Linked DNA regions of Homo sapiens: region 1 is linked to region 2. The links come from fine-mapping of genetic effects on plasma protein levels. Region 2 holds a variant in brackets. A gene starts in the other region. All regions are shown on their forward strands. Region 1 holds the start of CD300A (CD300a molecule). Region 2 overlaps POC1B-DUSP6 (POC1B-DUSP6 readthrough).

Evidence for each region. PIP is the posterior inclusion probability: the model's chance that the variant is causal. The UK Biobank Pharma Proteomics Project read protein levels with antibody pairs (Olink). The fine-mapping took linkage between variants from a reference panel, not from the people measured, so its PIPs are less certain.
Region 1: CD300A starts here. The variant in region 2 is fine-mapped to the plasma level of the CD300A protein (UK Biobank, PIP above 0.99).

The regions. Positions count from the first base shown.
Region 1 is chr17:74,463,439-74,469,745 of GRCh38, forward strand. It overlaps CD300A (CD300a molecule), which reads left to right and starts at 3,196. Exons shown (of 7, transcript NM_007261.4): 1 at 3,196-3,305. The coding sequence starts at 3,266. LOC124904056 (a long non-coding RNA gene) reads right to left here and starts at 4,336. Exons shown (of 2, transcript XR_007065899.1): 1 at 4,112-4,336; 2 at 570-1,312. RefSeq lists silencers at 3,688-3,747, 3,788-3,847 and an enhancer at 4,208-4,337.
Region 2 is chr12:89,500,635-89,519,267 of GRCh38, forward strand. The region is part of intron 2 of POC1B-DUSP6 (POC1B-DUSP6 readthrough); the gene reads right to left. The region is part of intron 2 of POC1B (POC1 centriolar protein B); the gene reads right to left. It also overlaps the pseudogene CENPCP1. Among named protein-coding and RNA genes, the nearest start is that of GALNT4, 15 kb to the right of the region's middle. RefSeq lists an enhancer at 2,709-3,382. The variant A/C (reference allele first, on the strand shown) is at 9,243.

The DNA of each region.
Region 1 (6,307 bases), not on the chromosome of region 2:
CCCCACATCTTTTCTGAGGACTGGGTGGTTCACAGGACTCAATGCTGCTGCTGCAGGTCTTCCCAGAAAGCACCCCTCATTGGCCTCTGAGCACGTGTGTCCACACCAGGAAGAGACTCCAGAGCTGATCAGAAGTTTTGTGGCTGCTGTGGGACCACTTCTCACCCTCACCCCTGGGAAATGGGCCTCAGCCCTGTGGCCTCATCTCCTCCTCCCCCTGAGTCATGTCACCTGATGGTTATCGGGACACAGCCGGAATGTGCAACTTCCGGCAAAAAACTCTCATGTTTTGTGGTTATTTTGCACCATTTTGTTTCTTCCTTTGGGTTTGTGGACAGGATGGGGTGAGCAGGATGGGCGTGGCAGGGTCTAAGTCCCCTGATCCCTTCTCCTTTGCAGTAAGTCAGGTGTTTCTCTATGTGCCTAAGGAGAATTGCATCCCATAGATTAAAGTGTAAAGCGCACTTCCTGTGGAATCCAATTTTCCTATTACCTTTCATCAAAAGTAGAGATATATTCCCTCAGAAAAAACTGACCTGAGGATGTTAAGGAACACTGACATTTCAGTATTTGTATAATCATAATAATATTTATTCCCACAGAGGAGCTGTCATTATTGACGTTTTACAGAAGCCACAGGCTTTGCTCAAGTTCATTCGGTGGTAAGTGGACAAGCCACGCCAGAACTTAGCCTTCTGCTTCTCTGTCTGGCCTGGACGTTCAAGATTGCAGCAGCGCCTTTTTGGTCATGGTTGAATCAAAAAATAATTTTTGAGAAACTTTGCAATGATCAGGCCACATAAGCCACCGAATATGACACATCTCCTGCATTTTTATGTTCAGCTCAACAGTGTCATGATCCAAAGTGTCTTGGATCTTTTTTTTTTTGAGACGGAGTCTTGCTCTTGTCACCCAGGCTGGGGTGCAATGGCACGATCTTGGCTCACCGCAACCTTTGCCTCTCGAGTTCAAGCGATTCTCCTGCCTCAGCCTCCCGAGTAGCTGGGATTGCAGGTGCCCGCCACATTTTTTTTATTTTTAGTAGAGACAGGGTTTTGCCACGTTGGCCCGGCTGGTCTCGAACTCCTGACCTCGTGATCCGCCTGCCTCGGCCTCCCAAAGTGCTGGGATTACAGGAGTGAGCCACCGCGCCCGGCCCGAAGTGTCTTGGATCTTAATGAGGTTTAGTTAATCTATGACTGCATCATCATGAAAATTTCCACAATGTCCACCAGGCTTTGTCATTGAATCTTCCAGCAGCAGAGCCCATAGGTCTCCTTGGCTTCCTGACACCTTCGTGGGCAAGGCGCCCCTGTGTTCAGAAGGAAGAGGAAAGTGACAAATTCCAAAAAGGGCCAGAGGGAAGGATATTCTTGGGATCCCATAGCTGGCACAGGGCTCCATGTGGGTGGACACTCTGAGCTTGGGGACTGCAAGCTCCCAGGTGACGCATTACACATTAGGAGTGGCATTTCCTGTGCCCACCTGGTCATTCTGTGCAAGCTGGGGCACCTACTCAAGGCACGTGTGTGAGACTGTGTGTGTGTGAGTGTATGTCACTGTGTGTGAATGTGTCAGTGTGTGAGTTTGTGTGTGAATGTGTGAGTGTATTTCAGTTGTATATGTAAGTGCGTTGTGTGAATTTGAGTGTTTCAATGTGTGAATGTGTATGTGTGTTTGTATCAGTGTGTGTGAATTTGTGTTTGTGTGTGAATGTGAGTTTGTGAATGTGTGTGGGTGAGAGTGCCTGTGTGTTTGTGTGTGTGTATATGTGTGTGTGCATGAACGTGTGTTTGTGAATGTGTGCGTATGTGTGTGTTTGTGAATGTGTGTGGGTGTGTGAATGTGTTTGTGTGAGTGTATGTGTGTGGGTGTGTGTGAATGTGTGTGTATGTGAGTGTGTTTGGGTGAGTGTGTGTGTATGTGAGAGTGTGAGTGTGTTTGTGTGTGTTTGTGTGTGGGTGTGTGAATGTTTGTGTGTGTGTGTGTATGTGCATGAACGTGTTTGTGAATGTGTGTATGTGTTTGTGTGTACGTGTGTGTATGTGTTTGTGAAAGTGTTTGTGAATGTGTGTGTGAGTGTGTATATGTGAGTGTATGTGCATGAACGTGTTTGTTTGTGAATGTGTTTGTGTGTATGTGTGAGTGTGAATGTGTGGGTGTGTGTGAATATGTGTGCATGTGAGTGTGTATGTGAGTGTGTGTTTGTGAATGTGTGTGGGTGTGTGAATGTGTGTTTGTGTGTATGCGAGTGTGTTTGTGAATGTGTGGGTGTGTTTGTGTGTTTGTGAATGTGTGTGGCTGAGTGTGTTTGTGTGTGTTTGTGAATGTGTGTGGGTGAGTGTTTGTGTGAGTGTGTATGTGAGTGTGTTTGTGAATGTGTGTGGGTGAGTGTGTTTGTGTGAGTGTGTATGTGAGTGTGTGTTTGTGAATGTGTGTGGGTGAGTGTGAGTGTGTGTATGTGAGTGTGTGTTTGTGAATGTGTGTGGGTGAGTGTGTGTGGGTGTGAGTGTGTATGTGAGTGTGAGCGTGTGTGTGTTTAGAGTCTGCACTCTGTGTGGATCAGGAAAGGGGTCCTTGCAGGCTCGCTGAGTCCCTGCTCTGTGCCCAGCCCCGAGTTGGCTCCAATGGGGCTATATAGAAAGGAAGGCATGGCCGGAGGACCTCTGTGTCAAGTTGAGGACACATTTCCAAGACTAGGAACCATTCAGGGACTCTGGAGTCACGATGACAACTCCCCTTCCCTCAGCCCCGAAGCCCAGGCCTGGACCTCCAAGGGACTCAGGGAAGGGACTCAGGAAAGGGGAGTTCCCCCTGGCAGCCTCCTCGTGGGCACCACCGAGGGTGAGAGGAGCCAGCTCAGCGGGTCCCACCCCCAGGGTTGCCCACCTTGACCACAAGGAAAGGAGGGAGGAGTTATTGGGCCTTCCACTAGGAGGAGACCCGGGGAAGTGAGAGTCGGGGATCAGTCCTGCAAGCTACGGAGTCACTACAGGGAGAGGTCTCATCACTAGAAATAGCCGAAGAACCTGCAGCCTCAACCAGCGTTAAGGAGGACGTGCCGTTTCTAGGGAGTCTTAGTCGGGGCTCACCAGCTTCCTGCATTTTCTGACCGGCTCCAGGAATAGAACCAAAAGAAGCTGAACAAGGAAGCAGCGCGGCACCAAGAAAAGCAGAAGTCGGGGCCTTGGAGGCGTGACTTTCCCCTCGGGTCCAGGTAGGGCCTGGAGCTGCTGCAAGTGCCGCCTGTGCTGGGGAAGGGACCATGTGGCTGCCTTGGGCTCTGTTGCTTCTCTGGGTCCCAGGTGAGAGTTTCCCTTCCCGGGAAAGTCTGCGGCAGGGAGGGAGGGTGCGAGGGGCAGGGCCGCAGGGCAGGTATCACACGAGACGCCCCGAGTCTGGACTCCGTGCAGAACGCAGAATGCGGTGCGCTCTGTCTACCACATAAGATGGACAGATGAAGGTCCACACCCCTGGGAGAGGAAGGAGCCAGGGCCTCTCCCGGCTCTGCACCCACGTACCTTGGCTGAACCACAGCGGGGCAAGTGATAAGGGGTGGGTGCAGAAAAGGGACCTTTTAGGTTTTCAGTTGAATTCTTACAGGAAGGGGGACGAGAGGCAGGATGTGTCAGGGTGGGTGGAGAGTGGCAGCCACTGACTGCGAGGGGCATGTGGTGAGGGTGGGGGAGATGCCGGGCTCACTGGGTGCAGGGTATGGAGGAGGGGGGTGTGGGGAGGGTGGGGGAGATGCCGGCCTCACTAGGTGCAGGGTACGGAGGAGGGGGTGGGGCGGTGAGGGAGATAGGGTCGGGGTGGGGAGCAGATCGATAGTCTCTGGAATGCGGAGATTTAACCAGGGCAGCCCAGCGGCTGGGGCCTGAGCAGGGGGAAGTCCCGAGGCAGCCTTGGCTGGGGTTAGCCCCTGCATGGGCCTGAGAACCAGGGGTCAGTCCTCTCCAAGAAGGGGATATGGGACAGAGGGGACAGAAAAGGTGGTGGGGAGGGCGAGGAGGGAAAAGATCGGGCAGAGAAGCGCTGAGATCTTCTTTAGGGAGAAGCGTGGAGTTGAGTCTTCCCTGTCCAAGCGCAGGGATTCCTCCCGCAGAGTCACCTGCTGTGCCTTCAGTCACGTCCACCGCTCTCCTCAGACAGCTCCTGTGCAGACTCCTCAGGCCTAGTCCTAGGGTATTGTACGTCTTTGTGGTTGCTTTCCTTACAGATCGGAGGTTTTCTGCAATTATATTTGCTAACTACTTGTCTGTGGGAAGGTTATTACTTTTGGTGTCTTGACTTGGAAACGGGTCATCCTCCCATAACAGGTGCTCCTGCGATTCTCTTGGGTGTTCTTCTGTTTCATAGGGTCGGTGTGCATGGGAAGGTTTCAGTTCCTGTCTAATATCTGTTTCTCTTTCTCCCATTGACTCATTGGCTGGTACAGCCGGAGTGAGGCCCAGCGGACATAGTGGTAGTGGTTGTCCCTGCCTTGTTGCTGACTCAGGGAAAAAGGACCAGAGCTTCTCATTATTAGGAAGAAGGGATCCACCAATGACTATTCACAAAGCATTTTTACTTTTATTTATTTATTTATTTATTTATTTATTTATTTATTTTTTGAGATGGAGTTTTGCTCTTGTTGCCCAGGCTGGAGTGCAGTGGCGCGATCTTGGCTCACTGCAACCTACGCCTCCCAGGTTCAAGTGATTCTCCTGCCTCAGCCTCCCGAGTAGCTGAGATTACAGGCATGTACCACCATGCCTGGTTAATTTTGTATTTTTAGTAGAGATGGGCTTTCTCCATGTTGGTCAGGCTGGTCTCAAACTCCCAACCTCAGGTGATCCACTCACCTTGGCCTCCCAAAGTGCTGGGATTGCAGGCGTGAGCCACCAAGCCTGGCCAACATTTTTATTTTTTTGAGACAGGGTCTCCCTCCGTCACCCAAACTGGAGTGCGGTGGTGCAATCACGGTTCACTGTAGCCTCCACCTCCCGGGCTCAAGTGATCCTCCCACCTCAACCTCCCCAGTAGCTGAGACTACAGGTGTGTGCCACCACACCCAGCTGGATTCTTAATTTTTTTTAGGGACAGGGTCTTACCATGTTGCCCAGGCTGGCCTCCACCTCCTGGGATCAAGGGATCCTCCCATCTTGTCCTCCCAAAATGCAGGGATTACAGGCATGAACCACCACACCTGGCCCCTACAAAACATTTTTTATTTTATTTTTATTTATTTTTTTGGAGACAGAATCTCACTCTATCACCCAGGGCTGGAGTGCAGTGGCTTGATCTCAGCTCACTGCAACCTCCGCCTCCCGGGTTCAAGTGATTCTCCTGCCTCAGCCTCTTGAATAACTGGGCTTACAGGCACCCACCACCACTGCTGGCTAATTTTTTTGTATTTTAGTAGAGACGGGGTTTCACCATGTTGCCCAAGGTGGTCTCGAACTCCTGAGCTCAGGCAATCTGCCAGCCTTGGCCTCCGGCCCCCACAAAATACCATTTTTATTATTTATAGAAATTATTATTATTATTATCCTTTCAGCTATGAAGGAGGTGAACTACATTAGGAGATCTGGTCAGATGTTTGTCTTGATTTATTATGCTGGCTTCATGGAAAGAATTAGGGAGATCTCCCTGTTTCCGTGTTCTCTGCAAATGTTTACATAAAATTGAAATTATTTGTTCCTTGAAGTTTTTAGAGAACTAGCTTGTAAAACTGTCTGAGTTTTGCTTCTTTTTTTTTGATGGAAGGGAAAGAATTTCTTAATAACACTCATCATTTTTGGTCTACATTAAAAAAAATCTAGCTGGGTGCAGTGGCTCACACCTGTAATCCCAGAATTTTAGGAGGTTGAGGTGGGAGGATAGCTTAAGCCCAGGAGTCCGAGACTGGCCTGGGCAGTATAGCAAGCAAGACCCCGTCTCTTAAAAAAAAAAAAAGTCTATTCTTGGCCTACATTGATGATTTATATTTTCCTAAAAAATCATCAGTGTCGCCCAGGTTTGCAGACTTATTTGCAGAGATTTGCAAATTTTTCTTTTGAATTTTATATCTGCGTCTTCTTTATTTTTGGTCTGACTACCTACTAGTCTAATTAATTGTTTGAGGCCAGGCACGTTGGCTCACGCCTGTAATCCCAGCACTTTGGGAGGCCAAGGCGGGTGGATCACTTGAGGTCAGGAGTTTGAGACCAGCCTGGCCAACATGGTGAAACCCCGTGTCTCCTAAAAACACAAAATTAGCCAGGCATGGTAGTGTGCACCCTGTAGTCCCAGCCACTCGGGAGGCTGAGACATGAGAGTCACTTGA
Region 2 (18,633 bases):
AGAGACTTACACTTTTGAAAATTCAGTAAATATGCTGCCTTCAAGTACAGAGGTTTCACTTAAAACCAAAAAAAGATTAAACTTTGAAGATAAAGTTATTTTAAAGAAAATAGAAATAGATAGAAATAGATAATAAAGTATCAGATAAAGAGGATAAAACATCAGAAGGACAAGAAAGAAAACCATCAGGATCATCTCAGAATAGAATACGACATTCAGAATATGAAATTCAATGACAAGCTAAAAAAAGTTTTTCAACATTGTTTTTAGAAACAGTAAAACGAAAAAGTGAATCCAGTCCCATTGTTAGGCATGGAGGAATTGTTCCACCTCATTCGTGTCCTCCCGATGATATGAAGTTGATAGAGGATGAATTTATAATTGATAAGTCAGATCAAAGTTTTGCCAGTAGATCTTGGGATTACTATACCAAGAAAGGCGGGGCCTCTGAAACAACGCACCATATCCCCGGCTGAGAGCACTGCACTCCTTCAAGATAGAAAGTCAAGAGAAAAGCATCATAATATATTAGCTAAGACTTTGGCAAATGACAAACATTCCCATAAACCTCACCTAGTAGAGACATCTCAGCCCTCTGATAAAACAGTACTGGATACAAGTTATGCTTTGACAGGTGAAACAGAAAATGACTGTAGATCTACAAAATATGAAATGTATTCCAAGAATGCAGAAAAATCATCTGGAAGCAAAAGGACTATAAAACAAAAACAGAGAAGAAAATTTATGGCTAAACCAGCTGAAGAACAGCTCGATGTGGGACAGACTAAAGATGAAAACATACATATGTCACATATTACCCAAGACAAATTTCAAAGAAATTCAGACAGAAATATGGAAGAGCGTGAAGAGATGGGAAATGATTGTGCTTCCAAAATACAGATGCCACCTGTGGGAAGCAAGAAAAGTAGCACTAGAAAAGATAAGGAAGAATCTAAAAAGAAGCGCTTTTCTAGTGAGTCCAAGAACAAACTTGTGTCTGAAGAAGTGACTTCAACTGTCACGAGAAGTCGAAGAATTTCCAGGCATCCGTCTAATTGGTGGGTGGTAAAATCAGAGGAGAGTCCTGTTTATAGCAATTCTTCAATAAGAAATGAATTACCACTGCATCACAACAGTAGGCAAAAATCTGCTAAGAAAACAAATCAGTCATCTAAGAATATTGGGAAAAAAACTATTCCACTTAAAAGGCAGAAGACAGCAACTAAAGACAGCCAAAGAGTACAGAAGTTTTTAAATGCTAAAGGTTCTGGAGGTATCATTGGTCATGATGAAATTTCCAGTTGTTTCCTGAGTGAGCCATTGGAAAGTGATGAGGCAGACTTGGCTAAGAGGAAAAATCTGGATTGTTCTAGATCTACAGGAAGCTCAAAGAATGAAGATAATATTATGACTGCACAGAATGTTCCCCTAAAGCCTCAGACCAGTGGATATACATGTAATACACCAACAGAGTCAAACTTGGATTCTGGAGAGCATAAGACTTCAGTTTTAGAGGAAAGTGGACCTTCCAGGCTCAATAATAATTATTTAATGTCTGGAAAGAATAATAATGATGTGGATGATGAGGAAGTTCCTGGAAGTTCAGATGACTCAAAACGAACTAAAGTGATACCAAAGAACAGAATCCATCACAAACTAGTATTGCCCTCCAACACACCAAATGTTCGCAGGACCAAGAGAACACGTTTGAAACCTTTGGAGTACTGGCGAGGACAGCAAATAGATTATCAAGGAAGGCCATCAGGAGGATTCGTGATTAGTGGAATACTATCTCCAGGCAAAATATCGTCTAAAAGGAAGGCAAGAGAAAATATTGGAAAAGTTGACAAAAAAATCTAATAAGAAAAGGATCTGTCTTGATAACGATGAAAGAAAGACTAGCTTAATGGTAAATCTAGGTATACCTCTTGGAGATCCTTTGCAGCCAGCAATGGTAAAGGACCCAGAAACAAGAGAGATTATTCTCATGGATCTTGTAAGGCCACAAGATACATATCAATTTTTTGTTAAGCATGGTGAGTTGAAGGTATATAACACATTGGATACACCCTTTTTTTCTACTGGGAAATTGATATTAAGACCACAAGAAGAAAAGGGAAAGCAGCATGTTGGCCAGGATATATTGTTTTTTTATGTTAACTTTGGTGACCTTTCGTGTACTTTACACGAAATACCTTATATAATAAGTACTGGGGATTCGTTCTATGTTCCTTCAGGTAACTATTATAACATCAAAAATCTCCTGAATGAGGAAAGTGTTCTTCTTTTTACTCAGATAAAAAGATGAAAGATCAACCAACCTTAAATATATGTGTGTATATATGTATATGTGAAAAAGTTTGTATAGTTGGGACATTTGTCTTTGTAATTACTTGTGATGTTTTAAAATAAAAAAATTATTCATTTTTGTGAAAAAAAGACATCTATCCCTATCCCTATCCCTATCCCTATCCCTCTCTCCCCACGGTCTCCCTCTCCCTCTCTTTCCACAGTCTCCCTCTGATGCCCAGCCGAAGCTGGACTGTACTGCTGCCATCTCGGCTCACTGCAACCTTGCTGCCTGATTCTCCTGCCTCAGCCTGCCGAGTGCCTGCGATTGCAGGCACGCGCCGCCACGCCTGACTGGTTTTTGTATTTTTTTGGTGGAGACGGGGTTTCGCTGTGTTGGCCGGGCTGGTCTCCAGCTCCTAACCGCGAGTGATCTGCCAGCCTCGGCCTCCCGAGGTGCCGGGATTGCAGACGGAGTCTCATTCACTCAGTGCTCAATGTTGCCGAGGCTGGAGTGCAGTGGCATGATCTCAGCTAGCTACAACCTCCACCTCCCAGCCGCCTGCCTTGGCCTCCCAAAGTGCCAAGACTGCAGCCTCTGCCTGGCTGCCACCCCGTCTGGGAAGTGAGGAGCGTCTCTGCCCGGCCACCATCCCGTCTAGGAAGTGAGGAGCGTCTCTGCCCGGCCGCCCATCGTCTGAGATGTGGGGAGCGCCTCTGCCCCGCCACCCCATCTGGGATGTGAGGAGAGCCTCTGCCCTGCTGCGACCCCGTCTGGGAGGTGAGGAGCGTCTCTGCCCGGCCGCCCCGTCTGAGAAGTGAGGAGCCCCTCCGCCCGGCAGCCGCCCCATCTGAGAAGTGAGGAGCCCCTCCGCCCGGCAGCCGCCCCATCTGAGAAGTGAGGAGCCCCTCCGCCCGGCAGCCGCCCCGTCTGAGAAGTGAGGAGCCCCTCCGCCTGGCAGCCGCCCTGTCTGAGAAGTGAGGAGCCCCTCCGCCCCGCAGCCACCCTGTCTGGGAAGTGAGGAGCGTCTCCGCCCGGCAGCCGCCCCGTCCGGGAGGGAGGTGGGGGGCGCCTCTGCCCGGCCGCCGCCCCATCCAGGAGGTGGGGGGCGCCTCTGCCCGGCCGCCCCTTCTGGGAAGTGAGGAGCCCCTCTGCCCGGCCACCACCCCATCTGGGAGGTGTACCCAACAGCTCATTGAGAACGGGCCATGATGACGATGGCGGTTTTGTGGAATAGAAAAGGGGGAAATGTGGGGAAAAGATAGAGAAATCAGATTGTTGCTGTGTCTGTGGAGAAAGAAGTAGACATAGGAGACTCCATTTTGTTCTGTACTAAGAAAGATTCTTCTGCTTTGGGATGCTGTTGATCTATGACCTTGCCCCCAACCCTGTGCTCTCTGAAACATGTGCTGTGTCCACTCAGGGTTAAATGGATTAAGGGCGGTGCAAGATGTGCTTTGTTAAACAGATGCTTGAAGGCAGCATGCTCCTTAAGAGTCATCACCACTCCCTAACCTCAAGTACCCAGGGACACAAACACTGCGGAAGGCCGCAGGGTCCTCTGCCTAGGAAAACCAGAGACCTTTGTTCACTTGTTTATCTGCTGACCTTCCCTCCACTATTGTCCTATGACCCTGCCAAATCCCTCTCTGCAAGAAACACCCAAGAATGATCAATAAAAAAAAAAAAGAAAGAAAAAAGACATTAACGTTAATAAGTATAGAGGAAAAGAATGATAATTTGTACTGTGCAAAAATTAAGAAGTTTTGTTCACTGAGAGATACCACTAACCAAGTAGAAAAGCAAGCCACCAAGTGGCAAAGAAGATATTTACAACACATATATCCAACACATAACAAAGTGTGCATATACAGAATCTATAAAGAATGCTACGAATCAGCCAGGTACAGTGGCTCATGCCTGTAATCCCAGCAATTTGAGACGCCAAGGTGAGAGGACCACTTGAGGCCAGGAGTTTGAGACCAACTTGGGCAACATAATGAGACTCCATCTCTACAAAAAAAATAAAATTTAAAAAGAATGCTACAAATCAATAAGAAAAAGGCACACTACCCAACAACAACAACAAAAATAGGCAAAGGACTTAAACAGGCACTTTGCAAAAGAAGATACCCATATGGTCAATAAACATATGAAAATGTGCTCAATTCCATTAGTCATCACGAAAACGTAAATTAAAACCACAATGAGATATCCGTGCACACTCATCAGAATGATTACAATGAAAAAGATAAATAACACCAAATCTTGGTGAGGATGTAGAACAACTGGAATGTTCATATACTACTAGTGGTTATAACCACTTTGAAAATCTATTTTGAAATATCTATTGAAGCTGAATATATACTTAGTATTTGATTCAGCAATTCCACTTCTAGGAATATACCCACAGAAATTCTTATGTATGGTTAGCAAAAGACATGTGCAATGTTTGTGGCAATACTATTCACAATAGATCAAAGCTAGAAGCCCAACTATCCAAGTAAAATGAATACATAAATTGTGATATATTCATGTTGCATACCCACTGTGTTAAATTTTACTTATATGAAGTTTAAGAAGAAGCAAAATTAACCTATGAAGTTAGAAGCAAACATAGTGATTATGTGGATGGCAGGGAGGGAGTATAGTGGCTGGAAGGGAACACAAGAGGGGACTTCCGGAGATGCTGGTAATGTTATGCTTCTCACTCTGGGTTTTGGTTAAATAAGCAGGTCACATTCTAAATATTCATCAAGCTTTACAGTTATATGATTTGTGCAATTTTTGGAACATATCAATGCTTCAATAAAACATTTAGGAAAAAGCAGAAAACATCACTCTAGCTGTTGTGTGGAGAAGCTACAAGGGGCAAGGGACAGATCTATTAGGAGGCTACTGCAATCACGCAGTCAGGAGAAAGCAGTGGTCTGGACTAGACTGCGAGCCTTGGAAGGAGGAAAAAGAGTCAAAATCAAGATATACTGTAGGGTCTATGAGACTTGCTAATGACTAGATGTGAGGGAGAGAAAAAGAGAAGATGCTAGAATTTTGGCCTGGGCACTGAAGTGAGTTTTAGTGCCATTTAATGAGATGAGAAAGACCAGAAAAGGAGATCTGAAGTGATACAGGTTGGGGTGGACATAGTAGTTTTGAGATGCCAATTAGACATACAAGTGAAAATGTCAAGTAGGAAGATGGATATACCCCGCCTGGAGCCCAGGGAGAGGTTCTGACTGTACAGTGTGGTGGTTAAAAGAACACCCTGTGAAATTAGACTCACTGTGTTCAAATCCATGCTGTCACTTACTGCTGTGTGCCCTTGGGCAAGTTATTCCACCTCTCTGTGCCCAGGACATTTCATTTGCAAAATGAGGTGTTAAAAGTATTAAAGGAAATAGTACTTGCAATTTATGCCTGCCACATGAAAAATACTCAAATGTAGCTATTATTGCTAAAGTTTTCTCTGTTAGTAGTAACTTAGAGAAAGTACTAAAGACTGTAAACTAGATGGGATCACTGAGGAAATCAGTACAGATAAAGAAGAGGTTGAGGACACTTAACGTTCAGATAAGGAAGAGCAAAGGAAGGAGCCACAAACGAAGTAGGAGAGGAACAAGGACATTGTGGTGTCCAGGAAGAGAAGGAGCATTCCAAGAGGGTGACAAGTGTGTCAAATGAGGTTTAGTAAAATCAGGCCTGATCAGGACCTGCTACATAATTTGCAGGGCCTAGTGCAAAACGTAAATGTGAAGCTCTTATAGGAAAATAATTAAGAATTTCATAGCATTAAACTAAGCATGGGGCCCTGTGCAACTGTACAGGAGGTATGCCCACAAAGCTGGCCCTGGGCCCAAGAGAGAGGAGGTTCCAGCGGGGCTTCCTGGGTCGAGTAGGGGCTCAGAAAGCTGTGAAACTCACTCATTTCCTGCATCAGGACTTACTTTGGTCCTGGATAAATAATATTGAAGATATATACTTAAAATATTCCTAACATCAGAATTTGTCCATGTGTTTTCTTCCTCAAGAAAGTGGGATCAAAGCCAGAAAGGCATGGAGTCAGAAGAAAATAGGAGGGAGTTAATACATATTATATAACATATTACGACCCCCAAGGCAGCAGATCACTTCAGCCCAGAAGTCTGAGACCAGCTGGGCAACGTCTCGAAACCCCGTCTCTACAAAAAATAACAAAAAAATTAGCTGGGCATGGTGACCTGCACCTGTATTCCCAGCTACTCTGTGGGGGTGGGGGAGGCTGAGGTGGGAGATAGAGGCTGTACTGAGCCACGATTGCGCCACTGCACTCCAGCCTGCTCCAGACAGAGCAAGGCCCTGTCTCAAAAAAAAAAAAAAAAAAAAAAAAAACTATGAAAACCAACATTGAATTTCCCTCTTTACTTCCTTAACCTTCTTTCTTAGGAAAGAACTGTCCTACCAAACCCTAATACCATGATAATAAAATGTATTTGGTTATTGATGTCAGTGTTGTACTGTGTCAACTTGGAATTTGCTTTCATACATTTCCATTAAACCACACCCTATATAAACATTACCACATAATTTAAAATGTCAAAGCTTGTACCATTCATCTTCAACGGGTCTATTTCGAGATAAAATGTCAAAAGGGAGGAAATTAAGGGAAAACATTAACTAGTAATCTACCAGTTTAAAAAAACTATTTATGTTCTATAACAATAATCCATTGTTTCAAGAAATCCCTGTTGGCAGAAGAAAGAACAAAGCCCATGCTTACCTAGGTCAGTGCTTTGTCTCTGGAGGTGACAACAAAGAACAACAAATGGAAAACATGTTTGCTCTTTGTCTGTCACACAATGTCCAAATGGCCACCCGTCTTTGTGTCACCTTAAGTACCAATAACTTCCTTGAGTCAACTCAAGCTTTCTCACTCATTGATTTGACCAAAATCAGCTGCAGTTACTTAGAGGCTCTGTCTGGAACACTATTTTCTGAAAAGAAATGTTACCGTCTCCAGTTTTTTGTTTCTTACAAATTATCTTACGTATCTTTTCAGTTGGTAATATGTGTACCTGAAACAGAATTCCAATATTACAGAATTCCAACATTACAAAACAGCATTTAATGAAATCTCCTTCTAGTCCTTGGCAACCTGGTTCTCCTTCCCAGAAGCAACCAGCATTACTAATTTCTGGGGAATCCTTTGTGCTTATACAAATGTGTGTGTCTATTCTCATATGCTTTTTATACAAATGGTAGTATATTATTCTTGCTATTCTGCATTTTGCCTCTCTATCTTGCTTCCTCAGTCTACTTAGCATGATATATGTTGGAGACAATGTTTTGTTAATACCTAGAGCTGCCTCATTCCCTTTTCCCTCTTATTTTTGGTAAATTTTTATTTTGATAATTTTAAGCTTACAGAAAAATTACAGAAGAGTTCTTAGGTTGCTCTTTGTCTTTATTGACCTTGATGTTCTTGAAGACTATAGGCTTGTTATTTTGGTAGCATGTTTGTTAATTTTATTAGATTGAAGATATAATTTTGACAAGAATATCACAAAAGTTATGTTGTACCCTTAGCAGTGCATCATATTAGGGTGCACATGATGTCTCTTTGTCCTAATAGTGTTGATGTTTACTTTGATTGCTTGGTTTAGGTGATCCTACCTCTACCATGTAAAGTTACTATTTTTCCCTTTGGAATTAATTAGTAACTTGTAGCATAATATGGTTTGGCTGTGTCCCCACCGAAAATCTCATCTTGAATTGTAATCCGAATTATAATCCATGTGTTGGGGGAGGGACCTTGTGGGAGGTGATTAGATCATGGGGGCTGTTCTCATGATAGTGAGTGATTTCTCACAAGATCCGATGGTTTTATAAGGAGCTTCCCCACCTTTGCTCTGCACTTGTCTCTCCTGCTGCCATGTGAAGAAGGATGTGTTTGTTTCCCCTTAGGCTATGATCCTAAATTTCCTGAGGCCTACCCAGCCATGTGAAACTATGTGTCAATTAAACCTTTTTCCTTTATAAATTACCCAGTCTTAGGCGGTTCTTTATAGAAGTGTGTGAACAGACTAATAGATGGAGAGACAAGACTATATAAATATCGTCTTCCTCACCAAACTGTCACACACTAATTTTAGCATCCTTTCATAATTTTCTAACCCATCATTCTATGATTTACTACTTAATTGATGTTTAATTAGTAAGTTAATGAATATTTTAAAAATGTATTTACTGTTGTAAGGAAGAACCATCCATTTTCCTCCATTTATCTGTTTACTCATTTACTTATTTTTATCAGTGTGAATGCATAGATTATTTAATTCAACAGGTTATAATCCATAACTATCATTTATTTTGACTCTCAAATTGTTCCAGATTTGGCAAATGAAAGCCCCTTTAAAAGCTGGCCTCTGTGTCCTTTTGATATATTTCCATTCTTCAAATACTCCCTTATTTTCTAGAATTACACGATGTTCTAAGATGTACTTCTCCCACTCCAGCCCTGAAATGGGCCTTTTTTTTTCCCCTCCAAAAGCTCTGATTTCTTTTAATGGATAATGGTATTTAGAAACCAATATCTGGGCACAATGTTTGCTTATTGCTACTGGTGTGTCAGTGAACAGAGCTAAGGAGTAAGACAGAAATCTCAACGGGCAGAACTAAGAAATTAGCTATAAATAGAAAGCTATTATCTATCTATATGTAGGTATATCAATTGATATAGGTATTAAAAACCATGAGTTCTAATCTAACACCACAGAATACATTCTTGCCCTCCTTTTTTCCATATCTGTGACTCTCTTTTCCCACAATAAGAAACCTGGCTCCCATGCTCAATATATCTTTGCTCAATCCTAAAATACAAACAGTAGTTTCAGAATCATGGAACCACACCACTGCAAAAACAATCCCACTAACTAGAGTTCAGGATTCAATTTTGGTTTTTTTGCGACAGAGTCTC[A/C]CTCTGTTGCCCAGGCTGGAGTGCCGTGGGGCGATTTTGGCTCACTGCAACCTCTGCCTCCCGGGTTCAAGTGATTCTTGTGCCTCAGCCTCCCAAGTAGCTGGGATTACAAGCATGCGCCACCACACTCAGTTAATTTTTTTTGTATTTTTAGTAGAGACAGGGTTTCAGCATATTGTCCAGGCTGGTCTCGAACTCCTGGCCTCAAGTGATCTACCTGCCTTGGCCCCCCAAAATGCTGGGTTTGCAAGTGTGAGTCACCACGCCCAGCCTGTTTCGTTTTTTTAACTGGGAGGCAATTAAATTATAGGTGGCTCCTTTTTGTTCTTGTACACTTCCTTTTGTTCTTTGGTAGCATGGGTCTGCTTGAGCTTGGAAATTAGTCCTAGGGCATGGCCCTTTCTTTCAGGTGTGGTCCTGATTCCTAAAGACCTGGCCTTTCTGGTGTCTCAACTCAATGTCTGAAGTGCTCAGAGAGATTTCCTCTTTGTTGGAGCTAGAGACCTAGACATCCAGCCCTGCATGGTCATTAGTATCATTCAGCTCTCAGTCTAGCAGTGAGAGATCCCTGGTAGTCTCACAGTTTCCCACTCTGCACATCCTGAGCTCAGCCAGGCTGTTACTCTGAGGCTGCTCTACCTCTCTGCTGTGCAGCAGGAAAAGTGCTCCCAGGAAGAAAGCCAAGGAGATCATCACCTTGCATGTTTTCTTTCTTGCAAAGATCATAGTTTTCACACTCTCTGTAGGTCAGTGCCTGAAAACAGCTAACTCACATATATTTTGTCCAGTTTTACAATTATTAGGTTGTGCAAAATTGCAGTTTTTGCTATTGATATTTTCAGCAACAAATTAGTTTCGTCACTGGAGGAAGAAATATGTTTTTATTCTTTTTTTTTTTTGATATGGAGTCTCATTCTGTCGCCCAGGCTAGAATACAGTGGCACAATCTCAGCTCACTGCGGCCTCTGCCTCCTGGGTTCAAGCAATTCTCCTGCCTCAGCCTCCCAAGCAGCTGGGACTACAGGTGCCCACCACACTGGCTAATTTTTTTTGTATTTAGTACAGACAGGGTTTCACCATGTTGGCCAGGCTGGTCTCACACTCCTGGCCTCAGGTGATCTGCCTACTTCGGCCCCCCAAAGTGCTGGGATACAGGCGTGAGCCACCATGCCTGGCCAAACAGTACATATTTTAGATAACTTTGTACATTTGAAATACATTCCCTCTCAGGCCTTTTCATTCCATATTCAAAATAATCCTGACTGGCCAGGTGCAGTGGCTCACGCCTGTAAGCCCAACACTTTGGGAGGCTGAGGCGGGTAGATCACCTGAGGTCAGGAGTTCGAGACCAGCCTGGACAACATGGTGAAATCCCATCTCTACTAAAAATGCAAAAAAGTTAGCCAGGCACTGTGTTGCACACCAGCTACTTGGGAGGCTGAGGCAGGGGAATCGCTTGACTCCGGGAGGCAGAAGTTGCAATGAGCTGAGATGGTGCCACTGCACTCCAGCCTGGGCAACAAAGTGAGACTCTGTCTCAAAAAAAAAAAAAAAAATTCCTGATAATTCAGATTACCTTCATATAGAAATCCTTGGATTTTTCACTTATTTCAGAAGTCCTTCTCTGTATTTTCTACCTCCATTATGTCCTACTATAAAGTCCATTACTGAAAATAAACTCAGCTTTCTAGTTTTACCTGGTGCCATGACTTTGTACTTCATGCTGCATTTCCAGGTTCATGCTTGCCTTTGGGTCACAAAAGAAACACCAGACTGCTTTATTTGGGGGAAAAATAGGGAAATCTAAAGAAATCTATGAGAATGAGTTCTTTCTAAATATTTTTAAGAAAAGAAAAATAAAAGGCAATCCCCAGACATACATCCATAAACGTAGATGGGGCCTGGCATAATGGCTCACTGTAATCTCAGCACTTTGGGAGGCCAAGGCAGGTGAATCACTCGAGTCCAGGAATTTGAGACCAGTTTGGCCAATATGGTGAAACCCTGTCTCTACTAAAAATACAAAAATGAGCCAGGCGTGGTGGCGTGCACCTATAGTACTAGCTACTTGGGAGGCTGAGGCACGAGAATCACTAGAATCCAGGAGATTGGGGCTGTAGTGAGCTGAGATCGCAACACTGCCTTCCAGCGTGGGTGACAGAGTAAGACTGTCTCAAAACAACAATAAACCTAGATGGAAGTGAGGGAGAGGGTTGTACAATAAAAAGACAATATTCCAATCTTGACTAGACAAACTTTAATACTGTAATATGGTCAGAAGTAGTTTGTACTATGCAAGCACTGCATAATAATACAATTAACTGACAGCACTAACTTAAAATCCCTTTGCCTTGAATGAGGAAATAACTAAGCATATTTGCTTTCTAGCTGATACTAAGTAATTAGCTTGCTAGTATAAGCTGGGTCTAAAGGAGCTGTGGGTGCTTTAAAAAGTAATCTTTAGTAATGACAAGCTGAAGAAATTGAATTTAATTTATTCAAATTTCACATGTCTTTGAGGACTGGCAATAACAACAACAGAAACCTTTACTGAATTGGTACCATGGGCCTAGTATTTTTCAATACTGCGTAAGTATCAAGCCCAGGCACGGTGGCTCATGCCTGTAATCCCAGTGCTTCGAGAGGCCAAGGCAGAAGGACTACGATAGGCTAGGAGTTCAAGACCAGCCTCAGCAATATAGCGAGGCTCTCTACAAACAATTTAAAAAATTACCTGGGTTTCGTGGTGCATGCCTGTAGTCCCAGCTACTCCAGAGGCTGAGGGAGGCGGGCGGCTGGAGCTTGACCAGGAGGTCAAGGCTGCAGTGTGCTGTAACTGCATCACTGTACTCCAGACTAGGCGCCTTTATAAGTATTACTTTATTTAATCCTAACAACAAGGCAGATAAATATCATTATCTCTATTTTACAGAAGAGGAAACGAGGCTTAGTGAGGTTAGGTAACTGGTCAAGGTAATATAGATGAAAAGTGAAAAGAGCTCAATTTTTAACCCAGTTTTATAAGATTCCAAAGCCTAGGCTTTTAACCAATAAACCAGTGCTTCTCAAAGCAAAGGGAATTTATGAATTATCTTCATTACAGTTACTGGGATCCTTGTAAAAAAGACGTTATTTCTAGTAAATTATACATTATTTGGGGTGAGACCTGGGAATATAAATTTTTGACAAGTTTCTCACTGAATTCTGATGCACATTGAAATTTGAGAAACACTGCACTCTGTTACTACCTCTCAGTGTATACACTAAATTAGTTTAGCTTTTGTAATTTTTCAGCTTTTATAAATTTAGTAATTTTTTAAGCTATAATAGGAGAAGCTCCACAAAGTACCACATAGGCTGCCATCAAGAATTTGAAAAAAAAAAAAAAAAAGAATTCTTGGCAAACTTTTATTATGATTTCACTGCAGGGAAAGTAACTAAAAAGTTCAAATTTCAGTCTGCTTCTATTCAGTCAAAAAAGGAAAGATTAACTTGTTCTTTACCATCATTTGTTGTACAAGCACACCACATGTTACAGGATTGAATCAATGACAGGATAACCTTGAAGGAAATAGAGGGGGAAGTAACAACTTCAATGTTAAAATTATGTAATTTTCAACAGAAACTTCTAAAGTACAGCTCAGATTCTGCAAACCCTGTGAAAATACTTTAACAGGCTTTTACTGTTTGTTTAAACTTTAATGTGGCCCTCTGCGAAAGGGATGACTGGCCTAATGGAAAAGGGTATGGTTCTGAAATCAGACTCAAACCAGGCTCTATTAGGCTAGAGGTCCCCAACCCCCAGGCTGCGAACTGGTTCTGGTCCATGGCCTATTAGGAACTGGGCTGCACAGCAGGAGGTGAGCGGCAGGCAAGCAAACCTTAAGGCTTGAGCTCCAGCTCCAGTGAGATCAGCAGCGGCATTAGATTCTCATAGGAGTGTGAACCCTGCTGTGAAAATTGTCTTCCATGAAGCCAGTCCCTGGTGCCAAAAAGATTGGGGACCACTACTAGGCTCTGCTGCCTACTAGCTTTATAGTTTTGGGCAAGTTACTGAAATTTCAGCTTCCGCAACCATAAAAAGGGATGACAACACTTCACAGGCTATTTTGTTTTCTCCCATCCTCTTCCCTCTCATCACCTTTCCACCCATCCTGTGAAACCTAAGAGCCCCTATAATATGGTTTGGACTTATGACCCCACCCAAATCTCATGTTGAATTGTAATCCCCAGTGTTGGAGGAGGGGCCTGGAGGGACATGATTGGATCATAGGGGCAGAATTCCCCCTTGCCGTTCTCGTGATAGTGAGTGAGTTCTCACAAGATCTGGTTGTTTAAAAGTATATAGCACCTCCCCTTCTCTTCCTCCAGCTCTGGCCATGTAAGATGTGCCTGCTTCTCCTTCACCTACTGCCATGATTGTTAAGTTTCCTGAGGCCTCCCCAGCCATGTTTCCTGTATAGCCTGTGGAACTGTGAGCCAATCAAAACTCTTTTCTTTATAAGTTACTCAGTTTCATGTATTTCTTTTTTTTTTTTTTTTTTTTTTTTTAGACGAAGTCTTACTCTGTCGTCCAGGCTGGAGTACAGCGGCATGATCTCGGCTCATTGCAGCCTTTGCCTCCCGGGTTCAAGCAATTCTCCTCCCTCAGTCTCCCAAGTAGCTGGGACTACAGGCGCCTGCCACCACACCTGGCTAATTTTTTATTTTTAGTAGAGACGGGGTTTCACCATGTTGGCCAGGCTAGTCTCAAACTCCTGACTTCAAGTGATCTGCCTGCCTCAGCCTCCCAAAGTGCTGGGATTGCAGGCATAAGCCACTGCGCCCGGCCTCAGGTATTTCTTTATTGCAGTAGGAGAACAGACTAATATATCCTACCTTCTAAGAGTCTACTAAGAAAAAAATCCACATGCTTCAGGTCCTGCTTCCTCTAATCATGACCAGAAGTTGAAGCCTCAAGCCTCTCTGGTCATTAAGCATTGTGCAATCTCTCACTCCCATAATGCTATGGATATCCCCTTAAGCTGACCTGGTACCCACGCCTTCTCTCCTCAAAATTTACCACTGAGCCACATCACCCACTAGATGATGCCTCTTGTATTCACATCCTCCTCTCTGTAAGTCCCTCTTCCTCCTTAAGTACTTAAATCTTGACTCTGCTTGGGGACACCAAGTTTCCTGACACCTTTCAAGCAGCAATCATTTTCTCTTTCACATGTCAGCTACTTCAGGTCACAGTCTTCCTCTCCATTTCAACTCTGAGCATTATGAATTAACTCAACAGATATGTGACCCCAGCAACATGTAAGGCATTGTGGCAAAAAGGGGGAGTCCTAAGTAACAAAGCAGACAGAAATCTCTAATTGGGGAGCTTAAATTCAAGTGGAAACACAGACAAATATATCATTGTATTTATTTATTTATTTTTATTAATTTTTTGAAGATAGGGGTCCCACTATGTTCCCCAGGCTGGTCTCAAACTCCTGGGCTCAAGGTATCCCTCCTGCCTCAGCCCCTTGAGTAGGTGGGACTACAGGCATGCACCACTGTGCTTGGCTTTATATCATTTTAAATTGTGCTAAGAGGCATGAAAGATAAAGCAGGAAGTTTTATTTTGTGTGGGGGTGGAATCTTAATTTAGATAGAGTGATCAGGGGCATTTTAAGTGGAGGTGTGAAGGACAGGGAGTCAGCCAAATAAAGAGTGAGGTGGTGAAGAACATTTCAGACCAAGGGGAAAATAGGGCCTCTCCAAAGACCTTTTTTCTCCTGCCTCCTCAGCAACCCATTCTGAGGATCTTGTCACCAGCAGAACATGAGCACTTCTCAAATCTCTGATTGCAACCCACAGGACAACTTGCTTTCCTTATGACTCACTCACTTCCATCCCATCCAGAACTCCAAGACCCATGTTCTCATCCAGACCCATGTTCTCCATTGAGGCTCTCTTCTCACCATCTTCACTTCACTAACCAATTTATAACCTTCATTTCTCTCCTTATTCAATTATAATCCCCTTCATACACATAACGTTCAATCCCTTGACTCTCCCTCCTTCCTTCAAATTCCCCTGGCAAAAATCCCAATCACTCTGCCTTTTCTGAGATTATAACTATACCAGTGAGAATTGCTGGTCAACCCAACCCCCAAACAGATTGGAAACACTATAAATTTGATAACTAAGTTCACATGGGTCTTATATACTCCAAAGTGGTGCATGATTCTCTATTAGTTTCTTCCTCCACTCTCTCTAATGACTATTTAATATTGTCTCTATCTTCAACATTTCTACCCCACTCCTAACCCTTGGCTTTCATGATACCCTACTATAACGGCTTTCCCTCCTATCTTTCTGATTATTCTTTCTTAGGTTATTTTGCTATCTCCTCTTCTGATCTACAGGTTGGATATCTTCAATATTCAGACATGGGGTATTTGTTCTCATTGCTCTACATTCTTCCCAGGTGATCTCATTCATTCCCATGACACTAAATACCATTTATATGCTAATAATTCCCAAATTTCCATCTTGCCCAGACCATCACACTAATTTGAAGACCATTATCCTAGTTTGAACCAACATCATCTGCTGGTATTACTATAATCCCCCTAAGTGATTTCCCTACTAATAGTACAATCTCCATATAGTAGCCAGAGTGGTCTTTTTGAGGTACAAATCAAATCATGTTATTCCCTTACTAATCCCTCCAACAATTTCCACCACTCTCAGAACAAAATCCTAAAACATGTCAAGTTTCCTGTAGCTGCTGTAACAAATTACCATAAACCTGGAGGCATAAAACAACAGAAATTTATTATCTCACAGTTCCAGAAACCAGAAGCCTGAAATCATGGTGTTGGCCGGGCCACACTCTCTCCAAAGGCTCTAGGGGATATCTCATTCCCCACCTCTCCCAGGTCCTGATGTCTCTAGGCACTCACTGGCTTGTGGCTGTGTCACTCCAATCTCTGCCTCTGGCTTCACGTGGCCTCCTCTTATGTCCTCTGTATGTTTTTTACAAGGACACATCGCTGGATTTAGGGCCCACCCAGATAATTCAGGATGATCTCATAATCATTAAGATCCTTTGTAGACTTACATCTACAAAGACTTTTTCCTCCCAAATAAGGTCACATCACAGGTTCCAAGGACTACGACATGGACACATGTTTTGGAGGGCCACCATTTAAACCCACTATAGCTTCAAGGCCCTGCCTAAGCTATCTCTACCTCCCCCTACAGCTTCATCTCTGTTTACCAGGTTCTACCCATTCTGGCATTCTTATACTTTCTTGATCTAGGACAGCTCTTTCTCACCCATGATCTTTGCCTATGCTACTCTCCTTTTAGTCCTTACCTAGCTAACTTCTCCTTCTGGTCTTCAGTTAAATCTAACTTTCACAGGGAAGTATTCCTTGACCCCATAAATATAAGGATGTCTCCACTGTTATCCTCCCTTTAAAAAGCACTCTATGGCTGGGTGCAGTGGCTCACAACTGTAATCCCAGCACTTTGGGAGACTGAGGTGGGTGGATCACTTGAGGTCAGGAGTTCCAGACCACCCTGGCCAACATGGTGAAACCCCATCTCTACTAAAAATACAAAAATTAGCCAGGCATTATGGCATGCACCTATAGTCCCAGCTACTTGGGAGGCTGAGGCATGAGAATCGCTTGAACTTGGGAGATGGAGGTTGCAGTGAGCCAAGATCACACCACTGCACTCCAGCCTGGGCAACAGAGTGAGACTTGGTCTCAAAAAAAAAAAAGAAAAAAGCATTCTATTCCTTTCCTTCACAGCTTTGACTATTTTCCTTTGTTTCATCATGTTGTTCCAACAAATGGATTCGTGTTTACTTGTTAATTATTTGTCTCCACCACTGGACCATGAACTCTTCATACCATCTTATGAAGCACATCTGCTTTCTTCCCCTCTGTATGTATACCCAGAGCATAAAATGGCATCTGGCACACAGTAGCCTTAACTAAATAAGGGAGTAGTAAATAAATAGAGTGCCTCCTCTTCCCCTTTTGAACAGGATTAGATAAATGCAAATAGACAGGTTAGAATGGTGACCAGACACCCGAAGACACTGCTGGCCTGCAGTAGATATCACTCCCAGCCCAGCCTGGAAGATTGATAAAGCTTGGCACGAATGAAAAAGTAGTACCCCAATAATTATTAAGTTAGAAGGACTGCTCTAATTTTCCTTTTTTTTTTTTTTTAAACATGACACAGCATCAGGAGGTCCTGAGGACATGTGCCCTCTAATTTTCATTTCTGCTGTGGACAACTATACAACTCAGGAGCTCATTTCACCTTTTACAGTAATCTCCACCTCCTGTCCAAAAGGATTGATTGAAGTTTCTCTGAAATTTTAGGAAAAACTCCAATATAAACTGATTTCCAAGCCCCACCTAATACTAAGCAGACTGATTCATTCATATATATGTGTGTAACTTTCTTAATTCTGCAAATTACACAATGATTCAAGTATTATTAATACTAAATACTACTAGCCTGTTCTAAAGTCTAGCATGCACAGAGGCATGCAAAGAGGTCTAGCATGCAAAGAGAAATCTTTTCTGAGACACCTGAAATTCTCCAGCCTGCTTTTTTTCCTGAGGTATTTTTAAAAACTGAGATATTATTTAAATACCATAACATTTAGTCTTTTAAAGTACACCAGTGTTTTGCCCAACATTTGCACAACTTTTATCACAAATTCCAGAACATTCTCATAATCCCCTACCCCCTGCCACCTGCCAAAAATTCATCTCTGTTAGCGTTCTCTATTCCTCCCTTTCCCAGACCCTGGCAAACACTAATGTACTGTCTCTATGGATTTTCCAGTCTTTTTTATACTCGTGAAACTGAAACACAGAGAGATGAAGTGATTTACACAGAGCTGCAAGTCACTTAGAGAGTAAGGTTAGAATACAAGTATTTACAGGAACTTTTAAGTGTATAAAAATTAGTGAAAATATGTTTAGGTCACCTATATATATGCTAAATGCAGCTATAAGACCATCTGATTTTGTTAGAGTCCTTAGAAGAGTCATTCTCAGGCAGTGTGTCTGGCCAAGGAGAGACAGGGGTATAGGGATTTAGGAATCACTAAAGAGGAAGAGACAGGCCACTGGTGGAAGGGAATTTCATTTATGGACCGGGGAAATATGAGGATATGTGGTTTAGAGGACAGACATTTTTGTTTTCCACCCAGGGTAGTGAAATTGGTGCTAATATGTCCAGGTGCCCATTGCTTCCTTTTATAGTGGTCCAAGTGGGCCCCAGAGATCCCAGATCATTTCTAGTTTGCTCATGAGTAGTTAATAAAATAATGGTACTAACACCCCTTCAGAATACTTGCTGATTAATGACACGTTGTAAA